5 separate regions of the Homo sapiens genome follow, and regions 1, 3, 4 and 5 are each linked to region 2. Evidence: fine-mapped expression QTL. A gene starts in region 2. Each other region holds a variant in brackets. All regions are shown on one strand. Distances are between the middles of the regions.

Region 1 (4,417 bases), 68 kb before region 2:
CAAGGTCATCCACCAGAAATCTGGAAAACAAAGGGAAGAGAATCTGTAGATATGAATTGGGAGTGTTCAGGAGAAAAATTTGGGATTTACTTTTGTGCATGGGACACAGGCTGAGAATAAAAATGTTTTCCTGGCTCTTTCTTGGAAAGCCAGATAGGCTTCACCTGAAAGCATATTGCCAATGCTCCAGCGATCCACTTACCAGGGACTGTGATTTTCTTGGTTGCGAAGTTTTTGCCATTAGTGACTGGGTTATGGACATAACACAGATAGTCCCCACTATTCTCTGTAGTGACTTGGGGGATAAAGAGCTCTTGTCCTGTTTGCTGGTTATTCCCATTCAGCAGCCAAGAATACTCTGCTGATGGGTTAGAGCCCATGAGGCAGGAGAGGTTGAGGTTTGACCCTGCATAGTAATAGGTGTCTGAAGAATAAGTTGTGGGTTCATCTGGGCCATCTGGAGCAAAGAGAATAAAGCCACAGGTAATGTTATCAGAGGGAATGGGAAGCTCCTGGTCTGTGAAAGGGACACAATGTTCCTTTTTGCCAAGTCACAACCCTGAAGTCCCAGCCAAATTTCTTCTGTGTTCACTGAACTGGAGGAGTCTAAGACATTCACGTGTTCTCCCATCGCAAGCTATGGAACCAGAGTCCCCTAAGACCGGAGAAGCCCCTCCCTTCCTGGGCCTACCCAGGTTTGCCTGGGACAGAAAGTCATGGCCAGCTTGGGGGTCCAGGGGTAAGTGTCTTCATACTTGGACCTGAGAGGGACTGAGAGGCCTGGCCTCGTGTTATGTGGATTTGGGCTGGCAGCCTTGTCCATGAAGGAAAAGAGGATACTCACAGAGAACATCCAGGTGACTGGGTCACTGTGGCTGGTACTCACTACATTCTTCCTTTGACATTCATAGAGTCCTGTGTCACTCCTTGTGACACTGAGTAGAGCAAGGACCCTGTTATCATTGGACATCTTTAGCCTGGGACTGAGTGTGAGTCTATGACTATTTACCCACCACATGTAGATTGTGCCATGAGTCTCAGGTTCACAGGTTAAGACCACAGCCTCCTCATCCTCCGCGGGGTTGCTGGTGACATAGGGCTTGGGCAGATTCACTGTGCAGATAACAGAGAAGATTCCCCTGTGTGGCACCATTGATTTCTCCACGAGCATTTTCCAATCAGAGTTGACATCTCCCACCTCTCAGCCAATCCAAGTCCTTAAAAGCCCACAGCAGTTCTGTGTGTCAAAAGACAGATGGATGCATGATGATCTGAGGGCTCAGAGACCATGGGGCCACCTGCTCTGTGTGGGAGATGCACAGACTTCTGAACTGTGAATCAAGCAGCAATACTGGTGAACTGTGAATTGAGCAGGGTCATATAATTAGAGTTTGATTAACTTTGTTTAAATTGGGCAGAGTCTAAGTGAGGCAGCAGTGGCTCATGCATCTCCCCACCCGAAGGACCCCACCTTATGACACTGTTGTTATTATGAGTACACAGGTGTGCATGAAACAGGCAGTAAATCAAACAGCACCCACCTGGCCAGCTCCACCTGGTCCTAGGAACCACCAGTATTCCCATTATGTGTATGTTACAGCCTTTGTAGGCTACAAAATATAAAATACAACTTCAGAATATAAAATATGCTATTGTCAATACCAAATATTGAATATGAAGCTGAATATGTTGTTCCACTTTTTCTCACTCTTGTTAAACTTTGCTGTTTCAGTTTTGGAAGTTCCTATTGACACACACTTAAGCTAGAGATTCTTTCCTCAGCTGTGGGCAGCCTACCAGTAAGCCCATGCAGGGCATTCTTTATTTCGCTTAAAGTGTTTTTAATCTCTAGCATTTCTTTTGCTTCTTTCTTAGAATAGCCATCTCTCTGTTTAAATCACCCATCTATTCCTGAAAGGTGTCTCCTTTTTCCATCATAATCCTTAACCAGAGTTGTTTTAAATTTTCAGTCTGATAATTTCAACATCCCTACCACATCTGTGTCTGGTTCTGATCCTTGCTCTGTTTTTCAAACTGCATTAT[T/TA]TTTTTTTTTTTTTTTGCCATAGTCTGTCTTGTATTTTTTTGAAAACCACACATGATGTACTGGGTAAAAGGGACTTGAGTGAGCAGGCATTCAGTGACATGGTGGTGAGTGAGGGGAGGGAAGGGTTCTGTGGTTCTGGATGAGATCTGTGTCCTGGGCTGTGAATGTCACAAGTGCCTCTCAGGTTTTTCTTTCCATTAGGTGGGATATGATGACTTGAGGAGGCTGGAGTTGGATATTTCCCCTCCCCCTGGCCAGTTAAGCTCCCATCAAACCCCAGCTAATTAGGCTGCAGTAAAATAGTTCCTCTTAAATGTAGGTCTTACCAAGAAGAATATAATTCACTGACAACTTTCCAAGTGTTTTTTTCCCTTCTCTCCTACAAGAAGGATGCAGGGATTCTTTTTGGATATTGACTGTGAGAACCTGGTAGAGCTCCAGGAGCTAAGAGTCATAAAACTGTCCCCCTACTCCCAAGGCTAATTCATCCACTGGTGTGTTTATCTCTGCGCTGTGTCCACACTGAGCCTCCAGAATTTCCTCAATTAGAGTTGAGGTTTTCTGACCCCAGCACTGGTTCCCGCTGAGGTTTCTGTGCCTGTGTTTCTGCTCAGGTACGGTGCGCTGCTCTGTATTTGCCTGTGGGTCTCTTCAATATGTGGGCCAGTTAGCACTGAGACCTTGCTTCTCTGACAAATCTAAATGAGTTGTTGTTTTTTCAGTTTGTTCAGCTTTTTACTTGTTGTTAGAACTGAGTGAAAATTTTTAAGCTACTTACATGCCTGGCGGAAATTCGAAGTCTCTAGGGCATGACTGGAGGATATGAGCCCCACAGCAGGTTGAGGATGGAGTCATGAGTGAAATGGGTGAAATGAGCCCATGGGCTTTGGAAACTGCAGGTCTGTCCTTCAGCGTCTGACCACCTGGTGAGTCTATGTAGAAAGTGAAACCACCTTTGCAAAGCATATGATGGTGAGAGGAAGCTAGCTTGGCTGACCCCATCTCACCTCTAGCCTCAGGCTGGGTGTCCTCTCTGATTCTTGGGCATAGGCCAGGGTAAGCATGGAAGGAATTTATAGTTTAACTTTGACGCAAGGATGATAATAGTCCCTCCCTAAAATTAGCTCCCTCCTTGTCGGGGACTACCGTGGTAAATCTAAGAAAAGACCATGAATTATGCAGGAGCCCAAATTCTGCTAAAATGCAGGCATAGTTTCTATAATCCCTTACTGCTCAGGAGTCATGTGTCCAGAGGTCACAAGATTTGTGACTTTCCTAGTTGCTCCTATAGATAGCAACACTATTGTAGAATCTGAGATTTGTCTTTGGAGATGTTTCTCAGATTTTTGCATTCCGGCAACCAGCTGACCTCATCTAGACTCATGACCAATGGCTCAACCAGTCATGTGGCCCCCCACTCAGAGGCAGATTCAACAAATACAGACCATTTCCCCTACCGGCATCATTTCATCTTTAGCCAGTCAACAGTACTTATTCCTTAGAACTTTGCCCCTCAAAGTTTTTGAAAAACTCTAACCTCTGAGCCACTGGGGAAGCTGATTTGAGTCATAATAAACTTCTATCCTCCTGTTTGGCAGCCTTGGGCTAAGCAAAACCATTTTTTACTACACATCACCTTCACAATAAATTGGCTTTGCCTGCGCAGAGGGCAAGAACCTGTCAGGTGATTATAAGAATGGATGGAGGAGTCACTGATCTCTTTCTGGTGGCCTGTTTCATGAGTCAGCCTCTCAGAGGGAAAGAGCCCTGGACTGCGACACAGTGGAAGCTCATTCTCTTGGTGACCCAGGGACATTGCCTTATTATGGATCCTGGCAGGGGTGGCTGCTTTGGCTGATTTTGGTGCATTTTACATTTCCCAGAAGGCAGGACAGGCCTAAGTGTGAGCAGAAAGGAAACGGGGCAGTCAGCTTTGTTAGAGAGGGTGTCTGGGGAAGTCCTCAGGGTGGAGGAAGCTGTGCAGGACAGGGCTCATCAGGTAGAATGAAAGAGGGATGCACTTTTTTCACTGAACACCTTTCAGACATCTCACCAACTCTGGCCTCACTGGGCTGTGCCTTTCCTCCTGAGCCCTGAGCCCTGATTCCTGGCAGGGAGGGAGAAAGAGAGGAAGGGTGAAGCTGGGATGTGTGCTGTCCAGGTTTCTTCCATCTCTAGAATCTTGACAGCGAGGGACCCTAATGTGTTACCACAGAGGAGACCATGGGAAAAAGCTGTTTCTCAGGGGTGCCTGGCTTATGAAGTGAGGGAAATTCAGACCGAGTTGGACTCCTGAACTACAGGGAACCTGTTCCATGTCAGCAACCAGCTCCTCTAGCTCAGTGTTTCTCTCTGTGGCTAATTCTTTTGTAT
Region 2 (4,417 bases):
GAAGGTTCTTGCTGAAGCACTTAGTGGTGAGAGTTACAATGTCTACTCCTTGTTTTTAAAATTTAAGAATATTTTAAAAGCATATGTTGTGTGTGTATAAACAGATACAATAAAATGTGAAGAGTGGGTGAATCCAGTGAAGGGGATACTTGTGTTCACTGTACTATCCTTGCAACTTTTCTGCCGGTTTGAAATTTTTCCGTCTTTTTTTTTGAGATGGAGTCTTACTCTGTTGCCCAGGCTGGAGTGCAGTGGTGCGATCTCGGCTCACTGCAACCTCTGCCTCTTGGGTTCAAGCGATTCTCCTGTCTCAGTCTCCGGAGTAGCTGGGACTACAGGTGGCTGCCACTACACCGGGCTAATTTTTGTATTTTTTTTTTAAGTAGAGATGGGGTTTCACCGTGTTGTCCAGGTTGGTTTCAATCTCCTGACTTCAATAGATCCACCCGCCTTGGCTTCCCAAAGTGCTAGGATGACTGGTATGAGTCACCGCTCCCAGCCTGAAATTTTTCAAAATGAAAACACCGCAGGTCAGGAGTTTGAGACCAGCCTGAACAACATAGTGAAACCCTGTCTCTATTGAAAATACAAAAATTAACCAGACATGGTGGTGTGCACCTGTAGTCCCAGTTACTCGGGAGGCTGAGGTGGGAGAGTTGCTTGAGTCCAGGAGATGGAGGCTGTAGTGACCTGCAGTGAGCTACAACTGCACCACTGTACTCCAGCATAGGTGAGAGCAAGACTCTGTTTCTAAAAAAAAAAAAAAATTACTGGGCATGTACTGTATGCCATGTAGGTGGTGGAGACATAGCAGGAGATCAGACAAACACTTCCCTGTCTGTGTGGCAAATATTAAACTTGCAATAAACTTGCAAAGACAAATAAAGATAAAATTTATAGAGATGTCAAAAATAAACATATAATTGCAAGTCACATTCATTTCTCTTTCTCTGCTATTCCTGCTCTCGCCTTCCCTCTTCTGCTTCTCCTCTCTCCGTCACAGACACCCACAACGTCCCTCTGCAGTCACTGACAGATACCCCAGGTTCCTTCCTGTCTTCCTCCCCGCCACCCCAGTGTGTTACAGCTGATTTGTACAGCCCTGGACAAGCCCATGGTTAAATAGCTAGGGATTTCATCAGCCTGGTTGGCAAACTGTAGGTAGCTTAAAATCAGACATGCTATGAGTATTTACACCAGAGAAATAGGCCAACACTACGAGGCAGGATTTGTGGGTATTGTTTTTCAGAAAACTTGGTTTTTCAGCACAACACTGCTCTCCCATCGGCTTCCAGCAAATAAATGTTGCATTTTTCAGATATATCCTAATTCTTTCATAGATATTCAGTCTCTACTCCACCTCTGGCCAAGCCTTTCCTGGTGGTAGGAAACTGGGGACTTGAGTCCTATGTTGTACTGTGAGGGTAGAGAATAGAAGAGAAAGCATGAGAGAAAAGCATGAAAAGAAGAATCAAAAGAAAGCAATATAAGAAGGAAAGAGAAAGAACAGAGAAGTGGGAAGACAGTGGAGGGTAGAAACTAGGACCGGAAGACATGGGGACAAGCTGATGCCCACTGCACAACGTCCTCACAGGTAGTTGGGCCATTTCCCCATCTGGGGTACAGAGGTGGCCAGGGAGCCCATGAGAAATGAGGAAACTGCCTTCCCAAACTACTGGAGAAAGAGGGTGGGGGTGGTGATCCACATAGCTGGGCTCAGGAGGAAAGAGGGCTGGGAGTCTGGACCGGGGGAACCTCGGGTCAAGATGCCACAGTTTCTAACTATGGAGGGCCTGGGGGCCTGGACTCCTGGGTCTGAGGGAGGAGGGCCTGGGGGTCTGGACTCCTGGGTCGGAGGGAGGAGGGCCTCGGGGCCTGGACTCCTGGGTCTGAGAGAGGGAGGCCTGGGGCCTGGACTCCTGGGTCTGAGGGAGGAGGGGCTGGGGGGCTGGACTCCTGGGTCTGAGGGAGGAGGCACTGGGGGCCTGGACTCCTGGGTCTGAGGGAGGAGGGACTGGGGGCCTGGACTCCTGGGTCTGAGGGCGGAGGGGCTGGGGGTCTGGACTCCTGGGTCTGAAGGAGGAGGGGCTGAGGGGCTGGGGGTCCTGGACCCTCCATCTGAGGGAGGAGGGGCTGGATGCCTGGACCCGAAGGTCTGAGGAAGAAAGGGGGTCCCTGATAGGCCACTGCGGCCATTGAGACTTGGGGTGGGGCCCAAGCCTCCATTTTGCAAGGCCCTCCCCTCCCCACCCTTTTCTGGGCTGGCTGCTTAAGGGCTGGTATAAAGGACTTGTTTCCTGCTGAAAAAGCAGAAAGAGATTACCAGCCACAGACGGGTCATGAGCGCGGTATTACTGCTGGCCCTCCTGGGGTTCATCCTCCCACTGCCAGGTGAGTGATGAGCCCAGCCTGGAGGAGATTCCCTGGAGGCCGGGCAAGGGAACCCTGCTGAGATGGATTTGCTCTTGCCACTCCAGGAGTGCAGGCGCTGCTCTGCCAGTTTGGGACAGTTCAGCATGTGTGGAAGGTGTCCGACCTGCCCCGGCAATGGACCCCTAAGAACACCAGCTGCGACAGCGGCTTGGGGTGCCAGGACACGTTGATGCTCATTGAGAGCGGTGAGAAGGCCCTGGCGTGCAGAGACCCCGCCCTGTCCCCTCAGTCCCTTGATCCCTGTGCAGGGACCCGGGAGCCACCCCTCCGGGGGATCGACTCCTAGGGTCCCGGTGATCCCCTTTCCAGCCTCTCAGCCTACGCCGTGTAGCAGCGTCTCCCTCCAGGACCCTGGAGGCCTGACCTCCATCCTCGCTTGCCTCCCTCTTTCGGTCCAGGACCCCAAGTGAGCCTGGTGCTCTCCAAGGGCTGCACGGAGGCCAAGGACCAGGAGCCCCGCGTCACTGAGCACCGGATGGGCCCCGGCCTCTCCCTGATCTCCTACACCTTCGTGTGCCGCCAGGAGGACTTCTGCAACAACCTCGTTAACTCCCTCCCGCTTTGGGCCCCACAGCCCCCAGCAGGTGCCTGCGGGAGGGTCGGGAGGAGAGGGAGGGGCTGCTAGAAGGGGATCCGCTGAGCACAGAGGGGCTGTTACGGAGTCCCTCCCACCCTCGCTCGCTATCCCGACCCTCGCTGGCTCCATCCCTCCCCTGACTGCTCCCTGACCATCGCCCCGCCCCGCTCCCTTTCCATCCCTCCCCACTCACTCCCGATCCCTCCCACCGACCTGCCACCCGGGAATCCCCGCACCCCTCCTCTTCTAAGAGCAAACAGGACGGATTTCTGATATGAAATCACCATTAACTGGGTTATCCTGCATTCTTTTTTTATTCTGTTGCGTTTGGTTCAAGAAGTTCTCCTGCAGGGTTTTTGCTATTTCCTCTTCCTAAGGGAGACTGAACTGTAACTTTCCACTTTCCTTGTCTGGTGTTATAAAGAGTCTAGGGAGATATTTTGCGCTTCTTTTATTGGAACAGCTTGTGAACACAGAAGTCTCCTGTTCTTGGAGGTTTAGTAGCGCTTGCAGGTGAAGGCACTGGCTCGTTCCAGGGCACCCCCTCATTCCCTTGACCAATGAGTCTGCTTCTGTGTCTCCCCTCGGAAGGCCAGACTTTGTTGAAAGGTTCAGACTTGACCATGTCTGAGTCTACATTTGGCCTCAGCAGGCCCCTCCTCCACCCTGCCCACCCCCCACCCCCACTTGCCACCCAAGACACCCCCCCTTTTCTTTTCTTTTTTTTTTTTTTTTTTTTTTTTTCTGAGAAAGCGTCTCGCTGTGTCGACCAGGCTGGAGTGCAGTGGCGCAATCTCGGCTCACTGCAACCTCCGACTCCCGGGTTCAAGCGATTCTCCTGCGTCAGCCTCCCACGTAGCAGGGACTAGAGGAGCCTGCCACCACGCCCGGCTAATTTTTGTATTTTTAGTAGAGACAGGGTTTCACTATGTTGCCCAGGCTGGTCTTGAACTCCTGACCTCGTGATCCACCTGCCTCAGCCTCCCAAAGTGCTGGGATTACAGGTGTGAGTCACCACACCCAGCCAAGACCACTTTCTGTACCCAGCCCTGGGTGCCTCTACCCAGACCTCCTGTTCATTCTCCCTTCCTCTTTTATGGATTACACTTCTTTATTTTCCCACATCCAGATCCCATGATGGGAGCTGCAGAAGGCCCCTTTGGGAAGGCTGAGCAGGTTGACTCTTGAGGCCAGCAAAAGTGGGGTGCAGAGAAGGTATCTGATCAAATCCAGTGCCCTCTCAGTGCCCCCTCACTCTGTCTGTCACTTTCCTAGACCCAGGATCCTTGAGGTGCCCAGTCTGCTTGTCTATGGAAGGCTGTCTGGAGGGGACAACAGAAGAGATCTGCCCCAAGGGGACCACACACTGTTATGATGGCCTCCTCAGGCTCAGGGGAGGTAAGCCTG
Region 3 (4,417 bases), 28 kb before region 2:
AGGCCAAGGCAGAACAAGGCATCTCACAGGTGAGAGCAGGAGGAAGACAGCAAGGGTTACACACTCTTAACCAGATCACCTGAGAACTCACTGTCACTAGGAAAGCACCAAGAGGAATGGTGTTAAACCATGAGAAACCATCCCCATAATCCAATCACCTTCAACCAGGCTCCACCTACAACTTTGGAGATTACAACTTGACATGAGATTTGAGTGGGAATATAAATCCAAAACATATCATTCTTTCCCTGGTTTCTCTCAAATCTCATGTCTTTCTTTTCATACGTGTCCGTGTGAAGAGACCACCAAACAGGCTTTGTGTGAGCAACATGGTTGTTTATTTCACCTGGGTGCAGGTGGGCTGAGTCCGAAAAGAGAGTCAGCAAAGGGAGATAGGGATGGGGCCATTTTATAGGATTTGGGAAGGTAATGGAAAATTACAGTCAAAGGGGGTTGTTCTCTGGTGGGCAGGGGCGGGGGTCACAAGGTGCTCAGTGGGGGAGCTTCTGAGCCAGGAGAAGGAAATTCACAGGGTTAATCACTCAGTTAAGGTGGGGCAGGAACAAATCACAATGGTGGAATGTCATCAGTTAAGGCGGGGCAGGGCCTTTTCACTTCTTTTGTGATTCTTCAGTAACTTCAGGCCATCTGGGCGTATACGTGCAAGTCACAGGGGATGCGATGGCTTGGCTTGGGCTCAGAGGACTGACATTCCTGCCTTCTTATATTAATAAGAAAAATAAAACAAAATAGTGTTGAAGTGTTGGGGTGGCGAAAATTTTTGGGGGGTGGTATGGAGAGAGAATGGGCGATGTTTCTCAGGGCTGCTTCAAGCGGGATTAGGGGCGGGTGGGAACCTAGAGTGGGAGAGATTAAGCTGAAAGGAGATCTTGTGGTAAGGGGTGATATTGTGGGGTTGTTAGAAGAAACATTTGTCATATAGTATGATTGGTGATGGCCTGGATACAGTTTTGTGTGAATTGAAAAACTAAATGGAATAAGAAGGAGAAAAACAGGTATAAAAGGTCTAAGAATTGGGAGGACCTAGGACATCTGATTAGAGAGTGCCTAAGGAGATTCAGCATAGTCCTGCCAGCAAAGATTATTTATTTACTTCAAGAGTTAAGAGTGGCAGTTTGGGGATAGCACGAGGAGATATCAGCTGTGATGGCTTGGAGAAACAGTGTAAACTGGCAGTGTGAACAAGAGCAGGGCATGTGTGAGTAGTTGAGAATGGAGAATAGGAATATGACTAGACAGAAAATAGTAGGGATGACAAGTTTTCTTGGGGGCACAGTCTAAGTTGGTCCAGTGTCTGGAATGAGACTGGGGCCTAATAAAAAGGAGCATCTATACAGGAGCTTAAATGGGCTGTACCTTGTAGCATTCTGAGGACAGGCCTGAATTCTGAGAAGTGAAAGTGGTAAAAGTATTGTCCAGTCCTTTTTAAGTTGGTGGCTGAGCTTGGTGAGGTGTGTTTTTAAAAGACCTTTAGTCCGTTCTACTTTTCTTGAAGACGGAGGACCGTAAGGGATATAAAGGTTTCACTGAATACTAAGAGCCTGAAAAACTAATTGGCTGATTTGACTAATAAAGGCTGGTCTGCTATCAGACTGTATAGAGGTGGGAAGGCTAAACTGAGGAATTATGTCTGACAGAAGGGAAGAAATGACTGTGGTGGCCTTCTCAGACCCTGTAGGAAAGGCCTTTACTTATTCAGTGAAAGTGTCTATTTAGACTAAGAGGTATTTTAGTTTCCTGACTCGGGCATGTTGAGTAAAGCTAATTTGCCAGTCCTGGGTGGGGGCAAATTCTCGAGCTTGATGTGTAGGGAAGGGAGGGGGCCTGAATAATCCCTGAGGAGTAGTAGAATAGCAGATGGAACACTGAGAAGTTATTTTCTTGAGGATAGATTTCCACGATGGAAAGGAAATGAGAGGTTCTGAGAGGCAGGCTAGTGGCTTGTACTATAGCATAGCCTGCATTTGCTGGTATGTGGCGATTAGGCCTGGTGGAACTGCCATCAATAAATCAAGCGTGATCAGGGTGAGGAATAGGAAAGAAGGAAATACAGGGAAATGGGGTGAATAGCAGGTGGATCAGAGAGATACAGTCATGGGGGTCAGGTGTGGTATCAGGAATAATGTGGGAGGCCAGATTGAAGTCCGGGCCAGGAACAGTGGTAATTGTGGGACTTAACAAAGAGTGAGTACAGCTGAAGGAGCCGGGGAGCAGAAAGTGTATGCGTCAGGTATGAGGAAGAAAATAGATTTTGGAAGTTGAGAAATGTAGAGAGTGAGTTGAGCATAGTTTGTGATTTTCAGGGCCTCTAAAAGTATTAAAGCAGCGGCAGCCGCTGCACACAGACATGAGGGCTAGGCTAAAACAGTAAGGTCAAGTTGTTTGGACAGAAAGGCTACAGGGTGCGGTCCTGGCTCTTGTGTAAGAATTCTGACCACACTAACCATGCCTAGGAAGGAAAGGAGTTGTTGTTTTGTAAGGGATTGAGGTTTGGGAGATTAATCAGACA[T/C]GATCAGCAGGGAAAGCACGTGTGTTTTTGTGAGAATTATACCGAGATAGGTAACAGATGAGGATGAAATTTGGGCTTGACTGAGGTAATGGGGGCTGTCTGTGAAGCCTTGCGGCAGGACAGCCCAGGTAATTTGCTGAGCCTGATGGGTGTCAGGGTCAGTCTAAGTGAAAGCAAAGAGAGGCGGGGACGAGGGGTGCAGGGGAACAGTGAAAAAAGCATCTTTACGATCAAGCACGGAATAGTGAGTTGTGGAGGAAGGTATTGAGGACAAAAGAGTGTTCGGGTTGGGCACCACAAGGGGGATAGGCAAAACAATTTGGTTGATAAGGCACAGATCCTGAACTAACTTGTAAGTCTTGTCTGGTTTTAGGACAGGTAAAATGGGGGAATTGTAAGGAGAGTTTATAGGCTTTAAAAGGCCATGCTGTAGCAGGCGAGTGATAACAGGCTTTAATCCTTTTAAAGCGTGCTGTGGGATGGGATATTGGCGTTGAGTGGGGTAAGGGTGATTAGGTTTTAATGAGATGGTAAGGGGTGCATGATCAGTCGCCAAGGAGGGAGTAGAGGTGTCTTATACTTGTGGGTTAAGGTGGGGGGATACAAGAGGAGGACGCAAAGGAGGCTTTGGATTGGGAAGAAGGGCGGCAATGAGATATAGCTGTAGTCCAGGAATAGTCAGGGAAGCAGATAATTTACTTAAAGTGCCTCAGCCTAATAAGGGAACTGGGCAGGTGGGGATAACTAAAAAGGAGTGCTTAAAAGAGTAGTGTCTAAGTTGGCGCCAGAGTTGGGGAGTTTTAAGAGGTTTAGAAGCCTGGCTGTCAATACCCACAACAGTTATGGAGGCAAGGGAAACAGGCCCTTGAAAAGAAGGTAATGTGGAGTGGGTAGCCTCCGTATTGATTAAGAAGGGGATGGACTTACCCTCCACCGTGAGAGTTACCTAAAGCTCGGCGTCCGTGATGGTCTACGGGGCTTCTGAGGTGATCAGGCAGCGTCAGTCTTCAGCCGGTAAGCCAAGAAGGAGTCAGTCAGAGAGCCTTGGGCCCAGAGTTCCTTGGGCTCTGGGAGTGGCTGCCAGGTGAGTTGAACAGTCCGATTTTCAGTGGGGTCCCACACAGATGGGACGCGGCTTAGGAGGAATCCCAGGCTGCGGGCATTCCTTGGCCCAGTGGCCAGATTTCCGGCACGTGTAGCAAGCGCCTGGGGGAGGAGGTTCTGGAGGAACGCCTGGTTGCTATGGTTCAGGCGTTTGGAAGTTCTTGTGTGCTGGAGATGTGGCTGGGGTTTGTCTCACAGTGGAGGCAAGGAATTGCAACTTTTTTCTGTTATTGCACACCTTGAAGGTGAGGTTAATTAAGTCCTGTTGTGGGGTTTGAGGGCCAGATTCCAATTTCTGGAGTTTTATTTAATGTCGGGAGCAGATTGGGTAATAAAATGTATATTGAGAATAAGATGGCCTTTTGACCTTTTAGGGTCTAGGGCTATAAAGCGTCTCAGGGTTGCTGTCAAACGAGCCATGAACTGGGCTGGATTTTTATACTTGATGAAAAAGAGCCTAAACGCTATCTGATTTGGGATAAAGAAAAAGGAGCATTAACCTTGACTATGCCTTTAGCTCCAGCCACCTTTTTAAGAGTAAATTGCTAGGCAGGTGGGGAAGGGCTAGTCACGGAACGAAACTGTAAGCCGGACCAGGTGTGAGGAGGGGAGGCAATAAAAAGATTACAGGGTGGAGGAGCGGAGGCTGAGGAAGAATTGGGACCTAGCTTGGCCTGGCAAGGAGGGGAGAGGTCAGATGGGTCTGTAGAAAAGGAAGATTAGAAAGACTCAGCGACGCTTGGGGTTGGGACTGAGGGGACAGGCGGGAGATTTGGGACGAGT
Region 4 (4,417 bases), 48 kb before region 2:
GCAGGGATGCATTGGCAAATATTACCTCCTGACTACTGTATGCAGGTCCTGAGCTAGATCTTTGAATGCCTGTTGCATATCCTAAAATTCAATAGTAGAGATCCACACTTCTTCCTTTGTGCCAATTGTAGCCCATCACTTTCAGGGGCAGATTGTGGGCAAGTAGAAAAAACTCCTCCTCCTCCTCCTCTGTGGCATTGAATGGCATGGCTTCAGTAGTGACTCTGGCAGTGGTGGGTGGGTTCCAGAAGGTTAAAAGTGAGGCTAGGATGGGGAGGGAGCATCAGTCAATATCAAAACCTATGTATTGGGATGGAAAGTTGGGGCCCTTTGTCCTTAGAGGTTCTCTTCACCCATGAGCCTTGGAGAGAGAGAGAATGTGTGTGTGTGTGTGTGTGTGTGTGTGTGTGTGTGTGTGTGTGTGTGTGTGTGTGTCCTGCTGGGTCAAGGTCAGCAGCATGACCCCCATTCCTTCAACACCTCTGAACTTGGCATTTCCCTGTGTGGAATCCTCTTCCCCAGGGGTCTGCATGGTTCCCTTTCCACTGACCTCATATCCTGCTCACATCAGGGCATCCTTGAAAGAGCCCTTTCTTGACACCTCCACTAGAGATTCTGGGTCTTCCCTTTCTCACTTTTCCCTGCTCAGTTTTCTCCAGGGCTCTTGTCAACACCTGACCTCACATTCTAGATATCCTTGCGTGTCTCGCTCCCCTCCCCATAACAGCATCAGGTTCATGAGGGCAGGGACTTGTATGATCTTGGTTGTACCGCAGTGCCTGGGACATGCTGTGGACTCTTGTGAATGAGTTTGTGAGCATTCCCAGAGCCCTCCAAGGCCTGTGATTTATTTCCCAATTTCTGAAGTTGGTGGCTGATGACAATGCCTTATACCCTCACTATGTTTTTATATGAAGTGTTATCTGATATAGTTATTATGATCATTTTTCAAAATGTAGTGGCCAGTGATGATTAACCGGGAATAGAGAACACTTGAGATTTGTTTGCTTCTTACCATAAATTTCAGTTCAATGTGATTTTCCTGTTTTAATCCTGTCCCTTCTGGTGTCCTCTTTTCTGTTAAGGCAGCAGTAGAAGCTCTAAGTCCTCTTTCCCCAGGAGCCCCATTTTCCCCAGGAGACCCAAGCCAGTCCCTGTGCCTTCTCATTTCCTCTTCAAGGAAGTTCTCTCCTCACCTGTGAACATGAGCTTCTGCCAGAGGATGTGCCATCTGGAGAAAGGGACTGATAGGGGGGCACCATGGTCTGTGCTGCCTGCTTGTCCTCCTCTGTGGAGATGAGCCTGGGATCCGGAAAGTTTCTGAGCAGGGCTGTCAGCTGGGCTGTCCTTCCACCTTCTATGCTGAGCCTCTTCCTGGGGCAGGAGCACTTCTCAGGCTCATGGGTGGGGTCTGTACCCAGGACACCTCTCTGTGCCCTCCCCTCTCAGTCCTGCTTCCTTGTCCCTCCTTTCTGTTTCTCTTCTGTCTGTGTTTCAGGCCCCTGGGAATTGCTGAGTCCTCTGCCTCCTTCAGCAGTGATTCTCTCACCCAACCTCTACACACACTATGTGCAGACACACACACACACACACACACACACACACACACACACAGACATCCTTTAGGTTTGGTAAGCACAGCCCTGGGCCCTCAGTGTCCTCCCATTTCCATTGCTCCAGGTCAGGGTGCACAGTCGCTCCCCCTGCCCTCTCCCATTCCCATCTGGCTTTTCTCTTCAAAGCAGGAGGCTGGGCTGCACCATGACCCTGTCACAGTGATGCACCCTCACCTTGCTTTGGGTGGGCTGAGTGCTGGCTGGTGAGAAGGACCCTCCCTCTCTTTCATTATGTTGAACTTTGCTACAGCTTCCATGGTTAGACATTCGATGACCCGGTTGTCCAAGAGGGTATTTTCCTTCGTGGAGGTGTGCAGGATCAATCTCTTATGCCTCCTGGTAGGAAAGGCCTGTGCTGATTGGTCAGTGGGGCCTATGGGCCCAGTGTTCACCAGGGACAGGTCTCAGCCACTCTCTTGGTCCCTGGGTTCTGGTGGCTGAGCTGGGGTGAGGCCCATCCATTTTCTTCCTGACCATCTT[T/C]GGTGTCCTCTGTCCTTGGCCCAGCTGACTGTCCTGTGGTCACCCCACCTTCCCCACGGCTGGTGCAAAAGGGAGTGGGGTGATGCCCAGGGTCCCCACAGAACACAGCTCTTCAAGACCCAGAGAGAGAGACTGGGAAAGAACAGGGGCTCAGAGCTGGAGAGATTTCTGCAGACTTACTCTGCAGCCAGGATGGGCTTAGCCCTTCTTGCTATACATCCCTTGGGGTTCCTCTTGAGGGATTGAGGCAGATCAAGCTCCTCTGTGTAGAAGAAGAACAGGCAGTGGCTGGAGAGCCTGCGTGAAGGGACTTTGCTCACACCTGAGAGGGTGTGTGGGGGTGGGCCATGTTCTGAGAACAAAAGGAGCTCATACCCCCCACTTCACCTTCCCCATGCACAAAGGACAGCCCTGTCTTCCCTCCCAGCTTCACGAGAGACAGCAGGGGGCAGATTGTGGGTGAGTAGAAAAACCTCCAGCAGGTGGCCACATCATGGATGGTGCCTGTGCGTGACCTTCAAACACCCTCTGCACCTCCTAGCGTGCAATGGGCAGGTCATAGGGTGCCTGGCTGATTCCTAGGAATACTGTGGGCACTCAGGCAGCTGCTGTTCTGTGTCAGCACTGGGATCAGCCTGGGATAACCTAGAGAACCGTACAGAGGGAGTGGGGTGGGAATGTAGGGAGCAGTCACAGAAAAAGTTGATAAGGATGGAAAGAGGTCACAAGGGTAAAGTGCCTAATATGGCATCATGTGGACCATCGCTGCCCTTGCAGATGCCCTTTTGGCTGGGTCAGCAGCCCCTGGGGAGTCTTGTGGCTGGGATTCTGCCATCCTCTGGTGAACATGGGGGAAATTTGGATGACAGCAGCCCCAGGCAAGGCTGCATGTTTTATTCCATGTGAATCTGCACATTTCACAGCAGATTATTCACCTATGTCACAGATCCATCACATTCCAGCCCCATGAGTCTCAGTCTCTGTGACTGTAAGTTCACTATCCTCCCTCTATCACAATCAGATGTCCCAAACACAGATTTCTGTCACCTGTGAGTTTGTGTTTGTGTGCAGTGGGCTGCACTGTGTATGCCCTGGGGACAGTGATGTCTGGGTGGGGCTGAGCACTGGGCAGAGGTTTGGAAGCAGAAGAGGGAGGTGCAGGGCAGGAAGATCAATGACAGAGGAGCAGAGAGGGAGCAGGGACAAGTCATCTTTGTTTCTCACTCCCAGGGGACCAAGAATGCAGGACCCTGACCTTAGGGCTCAACACCACACACTGTTGGTGTCCGTGGATGTCACCAGTGCTCGTAATTTCATGTTGCCTTGGCATTCATTTATTAAGGTGTAAGTTTACCTGCTTTATATCAGAGGCAGGGCTTGGTCACCGTGACAGTTCCCAATACTGTACCTGGCCAAATGGCTGCAGTTGGTGGCCAGAGATAAAATCTTAGAGGCATCTCTCCTGCTTAGTGTGCTGGGCTCCCCCTCTACCCAGCTGCTTCCTTTAAACTGACGGTTGTGAAATTTGCCCTGAAATTTAAAGTGACCACCTCTCAGTCACAGCGTGGTCACCTGGCCCCAGTGTTTGCTTGCTTTAAACTCACCCATTAAAGCTTTCTGCTGGAAACCTCAGCTAACGCCTTGGACCCACTAAAGCCATTGGCCTACAGGTCCCTACTTTCCTCTCTGCCTGGACTCCTTGACCTCTGTGTCTATTATCTCTAGGTGTGCCATGTGCTCCTCAGAGTCTGTAAATAGCAAAAAAAAAATTTGTACTTTCACATTGTGGTTGTATCACTATAGCCTCACCTGCCATCTGGTGCCTGACATTGAGGCTGCCCCATGGGACCCATGCTGGTTGAGCCCCTGCTGGAGCTCTTTTCTTGGGGTCTCTGGTGCTGCTGGGGACAGGCACTGTCAGGTGATTTGATGGAGAAATGGAAGAGTTTTATTCAAAACAGTGTGTCAGATGATGTTTTCATGGGCTTCAGCTGCTGTAACAAACACCTTAGTCTGGGTGACTTAAAATTTAGAAATCTATTTCTCATAGTTCTGGAGCCTGGGAAGTCCAAGTTCAAGGTTCCAGCTGATTCAGTCCTGGTGAGGGCTTCCTTGCAGATTCCTGCTCTCTTGCTGTATCTGCACATGGTGCAGGCTTGAAGGTGGGTGGAGAGACAGAAAGAGGTAGAGACCCTTCTCCCATGTTTTCTTCTATTTATAAGGTCATTAACTCTATCATGAAGCCTCCACTTTTATGACTTAGTCTTACTGTAATTATCTCCCAAAAATGCCACCTCCAAATTTCATCACATTAAGGATGA
Region 5 (4,417 bases), 220 kb before region 2:
CCTTTTAGTCCATATATGGTAACTTCCTGATGTTGCCATGGCATTTGTAAACTGTCATGGCTCTGGTGGGAAGGTAGTAGTGAGGATGACTAGAGGTCACTCCCGTTGTCTTCTTGGTTTTGGTGGAGTTCCACTGGCTTCTGTGCAACCTGTTTTATCAGCAAGGTCTTCATGACCTGTATCTTGTGCCGACCTCCTGTCTCATCCTGTGACTTAGAATGCCTTAAGTGTCTGGGAATGCAGCCCAGTAGGTCTCAGCCTCATTTTACCCAGCCTTTATTCAAGATGGAGTTGCTCTTGTTCAAATGTCTCTGACAGATGTAATAGGTAACGCTCAGAAACTGGCATCAGAGGCTATGCAACCTGAACAGAATTGGCTGACATATATCTCCGGGTATAAAGAAAGTCTCAGCTTTCCCCTGAGATGTAATGATGAATGTCCCTAAAGCTTCCTTCACCCTTCCATGCTAAACTCGCTCCACTGTTCCATCATCTGCTTTGAAGCCACAAGGACAGCCAGTTAGGACTTTGTCATCATCACTTTTAACTTTTGTTTAACTTTTAACAAAGATTGGCCTTTTTAAAGGCTCAATTATATTTAAAAAAAAAACAAAACAAAACTTCCTGCCACTTACGCAGTCCATTCATTTTAAACAAAGTTGATAATGCAAGTCAATGGGAAAAGAATAGTCTTTTTCAACACATGGAATTGGAAAAACTGGATACCTATATGGATAAAAATGAACTTTGATCCCTTACTCCATACTCTGCACAAGCATTAAATTAAGATCAACTGAGATTTGACCTGAACATAAAATCTAAAATTTTGAAGCTTTTACAATAAAGCAAAGGTAGACAAAGACTCCTTCTACAAATACCTGGCACTAAACATTAAAAAATCATAAATTGTGCTTCATCAAAAATACATCTGCTCTTCAAGATAGATGAAAAGGCAATTCACTGACTTTGAAACCAAGTATTTGTGTTCAGAATATGTAAAGGAATTCTAAAACTCAACATAAAAAGACAAAAATAAAACAAAAACACACGCAAAAAAAAAAAAAATAGAAAATGAGCAAATTATTTGGACAAAAATCTCCCAAAAAAGGAAATGCAAATAGCTAGCAATCACAGGAAAAGTTGCTCGATATTATTAGTTATCAAGGAAATAAAAAGTGAAACCATGAGATACTCCTACCCATTAGAATGGCTACAGTTAAAACGACTGACAATACTAAGTTTTGATGAGGATGTGGAGCAATTGGAATGCTCATGTATTGAGGTGAGAATATAAAATGGTGCAACTACTTTTAATAACTACCCTATGGCTCAACAATTCCATTTATAGATATATACCAAAAAGTTATGAAAACATATATTCATCCACACAAAGACCTGTACACAGATATTCATTGTAGCATTATTCATGATAACTTCAAATGGAGCAGAACCCAAATGCTTACCAAAGGATAAATGGATAAACTTACTGTTACATATTCATATAACGACATACTACTAACAGATAAAAAAAGGAATAACTATTGTTACCTGCAATGGAAACATATATAAATCTCAGAAATAGTATGTTGTTAAATAGGCCAGATACCAAATAGAATATGTTGCATGATTCCATTTATATAAAGTTCTAGTAGAGGCAACATGAAAGCCATGGTAATAAGAACAGCAGTTGCCTGAAGTTTTGGGGTTTGGTGATATGAGGAAATTTTCTGGAGTGATGGAAATATTCTTTATCTTTATTAGGCTGATGTTTTCACAGGTGAATATATTTGTGTAAACTCATCAGAATATATAAAGGATCCTACAACTCAAAATAGAATTTTAAAAAACCACAAAAAGTTATTGTGATGGTTAATATTGAGTGTCAACTTGATTGGATTGAAATGATATAAGTATTGCTCCTGGGTGTGTCTATGAGGGTACTGTCAAAGAAGATTAATATTTGAGTCAGTAGACTGGGAGAGGCAGCCCCTTCCTCAATTTGGGTGTGCACCA[T/C]CTAATCAGCTGCCAGCGTGGTAGGATAAAAGCAGGCAGAGGAACGGGAAAGGACTAGACTGGTTTTGTCTTCTGGCCTACATCTTTCTCCCAGCTGGATGCTTCCTGCCCTCGAAAATCAGACTCCAAGTTCTTCAACTCTGGGACTCGGACCTTTGAACACAGACTGAAGGCTGCACTGTCGGCTTCCTTACTTTTGAGGCTTTGGGACTTGGACTGACTTCCTGGATCCTCAGCTTGCAGATGGCCTATTGTGGGACCTCACCTTGTGATCACGTGAGTCAGTGCTCCTTAACAAACTCCCCTTTGTATATACATCTATCCTACTACTTCTGTCACTCTAGAGAACCTTGACGAATACGGTTATGCATTTTTATTAATGTAAATTATGCCTTAATTAACAATAAATACCTTCTCAACCTCCAAAAAGAGACTTTCTGTCTGAAACTTGAGAATAAGTCTAAAGTTTTCATTTAATAATGAATTTGTAAAAGACAGGAAAATTGATTTTGGCATTAATTTGTTCAACAAATATCTGTTGAGCATGTCCTATGTGGCAGAGGCTGAGTGTGGGGTGTGGAGTGGGTGAATGTAAGGAACATATAGTTCCTGGCTCCCTAGAGCTTATTATGGTCTAGGGGTTGGAGAGAATTGGTACATTGGGATTTTAAAGGGGGTGCCAAAAGTGGTGATGACAAAGTTCAGGGAAGAACAACTGGAGTGGAGGGAGGGCATCAACATGGATGCTGAACCAAGCCAATGTACTGCTAAGAGTGAGGTGGAAAGTATCATGCGAACCCCAGAGCTTCAATTGTCAATACATACTGGGGTGTGACCAGCAGATTGATAGAAGACAGCAAAGAGAGATGGGTAAATGCCAATAGAGCAGAATAGCATGACTTGTCAAGAGACAGGACTTTTCAAGGTGAAAGGAAGGGAGATGGTCCTGAAGCAGCAGTCATGTCTGTGACCCAACCAAGCCCTAAGCGATGACAGATAGAAACAGAGTCAGGGTCCTCAGAGGACAACTTAGTTTTAATTAAGGACAGAAGTTGAGAAGAATATTTTAAGAAACATTTGAGGGCATATTACAGTTTGCTGGCTATGGGTTAGGGTAGGGTAGAAGAGAGAGATTTGGAATAAAGGGTATGGATGGGACAAGACAAAGCAGGGCACCAGCCCTACCTTGGACCTTTCCTTAACTTGAGAAAGTCATGTCCATGTTGATTCAGCCAATCTGACTCAGGTATTATGTAACTTGAAATTGAACCATCCCAACTGATATAAGTGGTGATACTGAGTAACACAAATGTGCTTTCTGGATTCACACATGCACTTTTTTTTACATGAAAAGTTCAAACTTCTATGTGGAGATTTTTTTCAACAGTATCCTCAAGAAGTATTCATCATGCAACTCTTTCTAGGAAAGGTATTTTAAAAAGAAGAAAAATGTCATTTCTGGCCCCAGAATGTCAAGACATACATCTCTGAGAGATTTAGTTCTAATTATTATTGTAGAGTCTTGTGGGTGTTTCTTATAATTTTAATTTTTACAAAAAACAAATCTGTCCATCCATGCATCTATGTATGTATGTATATATGTATGTATCTATCTTCATCATCATCATAATTATCCATCTATGATCTATCTATTGTGTATCTATCTAATAATCTACCTATGCAGAACTGCAAAATTCACAGGACTGGCCCATACTGCCCTCTGCTCCCCACTTTGTCTAAACTTCAAAATGAAGTTTCTGGACACAGGGCTATGAAATGCAAAATGAAACAACTCATGTCCAAAGCTCTGACACTCTGCTGCTCATGAAAACCTGCAATATCCAACTGAGTTTTTCATTTTTAACATCAGCAGGTCTAGTTCTCTATCTTCATAGAGAGTTATTTTTAATTTTATTAGGGGATAAATTCTTTTTTAATAAAGAAATTATTAGGTATCAAAATACCACAATCTCTTTATGGATCCAACTAGATTATGTGTATGGGCAAAGTATTTTCAACTTAAGAATAACATTCCTGTTCCTTGAATACTATTTTGAAAGTTTGGATTAAGGGATATTAACTTCCTTAAGACAAAACAGACTCACAGTTGAAAACTACTCACCTTGTATATAGAAGTTGCTTAATTAATATCAATGATTTTTATTGAATTGGAACAAAATAGACTATAACTTTTTATAAGATACATATGGGTTTGTTACTAAATATTATTAAAATGAATGTAATGCAATAATATTCTTATTTTGAGGTAATACATATATAGTCTGCAAAAATTAGGTTTCCTGGTGTCATTAACCACTTATGCAATTATTTTTCTGAAATGAATACACATGCTGTACGTGCAGTTTTGCCTGATATAAGTTTTAAAACAACGTATATTGGAATC

What was found. PIP is the estimated chance that this variant, and not a neighbour inherited with it, causes the effect.
Region 1: its variant is the best candidate, but not a certain one, in a credible set for the expression of CD177 in whole blood (INTERVAL, PIP 0.78).
Region 3: its variant is the best candidate, but not a certain one, in a credible set for the expression of CD177 in subcutaneous fat (FUSION, PIP 0.81).
Region 4: its variant is the best candidate, but not a certain one, in a credible set for the expression of CD177 in whole blood (GTEx, PIP 0.86).
Region 5: its variant is the best candidate, but not a certain one, in a credible set for the expression of CD177 in whole blood (INTERVAL, PIP 0.68).

What each region holds. Positions count from the first base shown.
Region 1 is chr19:43,283,234-43,287,650 of GRCh38, forward strand. It overlaps the pseudogene CEACAMP11. Among named protein-coding and RNA genes, the nearest start is that of PSG9, 16 kb to the left of the region's middle. The variant T/TA (reference allele first, on the strand shown) is at 2,044.
Region 2 is chr19:43,351,376-43,355,792 of GRCh38, forward strand. It overlaps CD177 (CD177 molecule), which reads left to right and starts at 2,311. Exons shown (of 9, transcript NM_020406.4): 1 at 2,311-2,391; 2 at 2,478-2,618; 3 at 2,832-3,017; 4 at 4,286-4,408. The coding sequence starts at 2,340.
Region 3 is chr19:43,323,234-43,327,650 of GRCh38, forward strand. No RefSeq gene overlaps it. Among named protein-coding and RNA genes, the nearest start is that of LINC03078, 6.1 kb to the right of the region's middle. The variant T/C (reference allele first, on the strand shown) is at 2,531.
Region 4 is chr19:43,303,273-43,307,689 of GRCh38, forward strand. It overlaps the pseudogene CEACAMP4. Among named protein-coding and RNA genes, the nearest start is that of LINC03078, 26 kb to the right of the region's middle. The variant T/C (reference allele first, on the strand shown) is at 2,097.
Region 5 is chr19:43,135,410-43,139,826 of GRCh38, forward strand. No RefSeq gene overlaps it. Among named protein-coding and RNA genes, the nearest start is that of PSG11-AS1, 17 kb to the right of the region's middle. The variant T/C (reference allele first, on the strand shown) is at 2,014.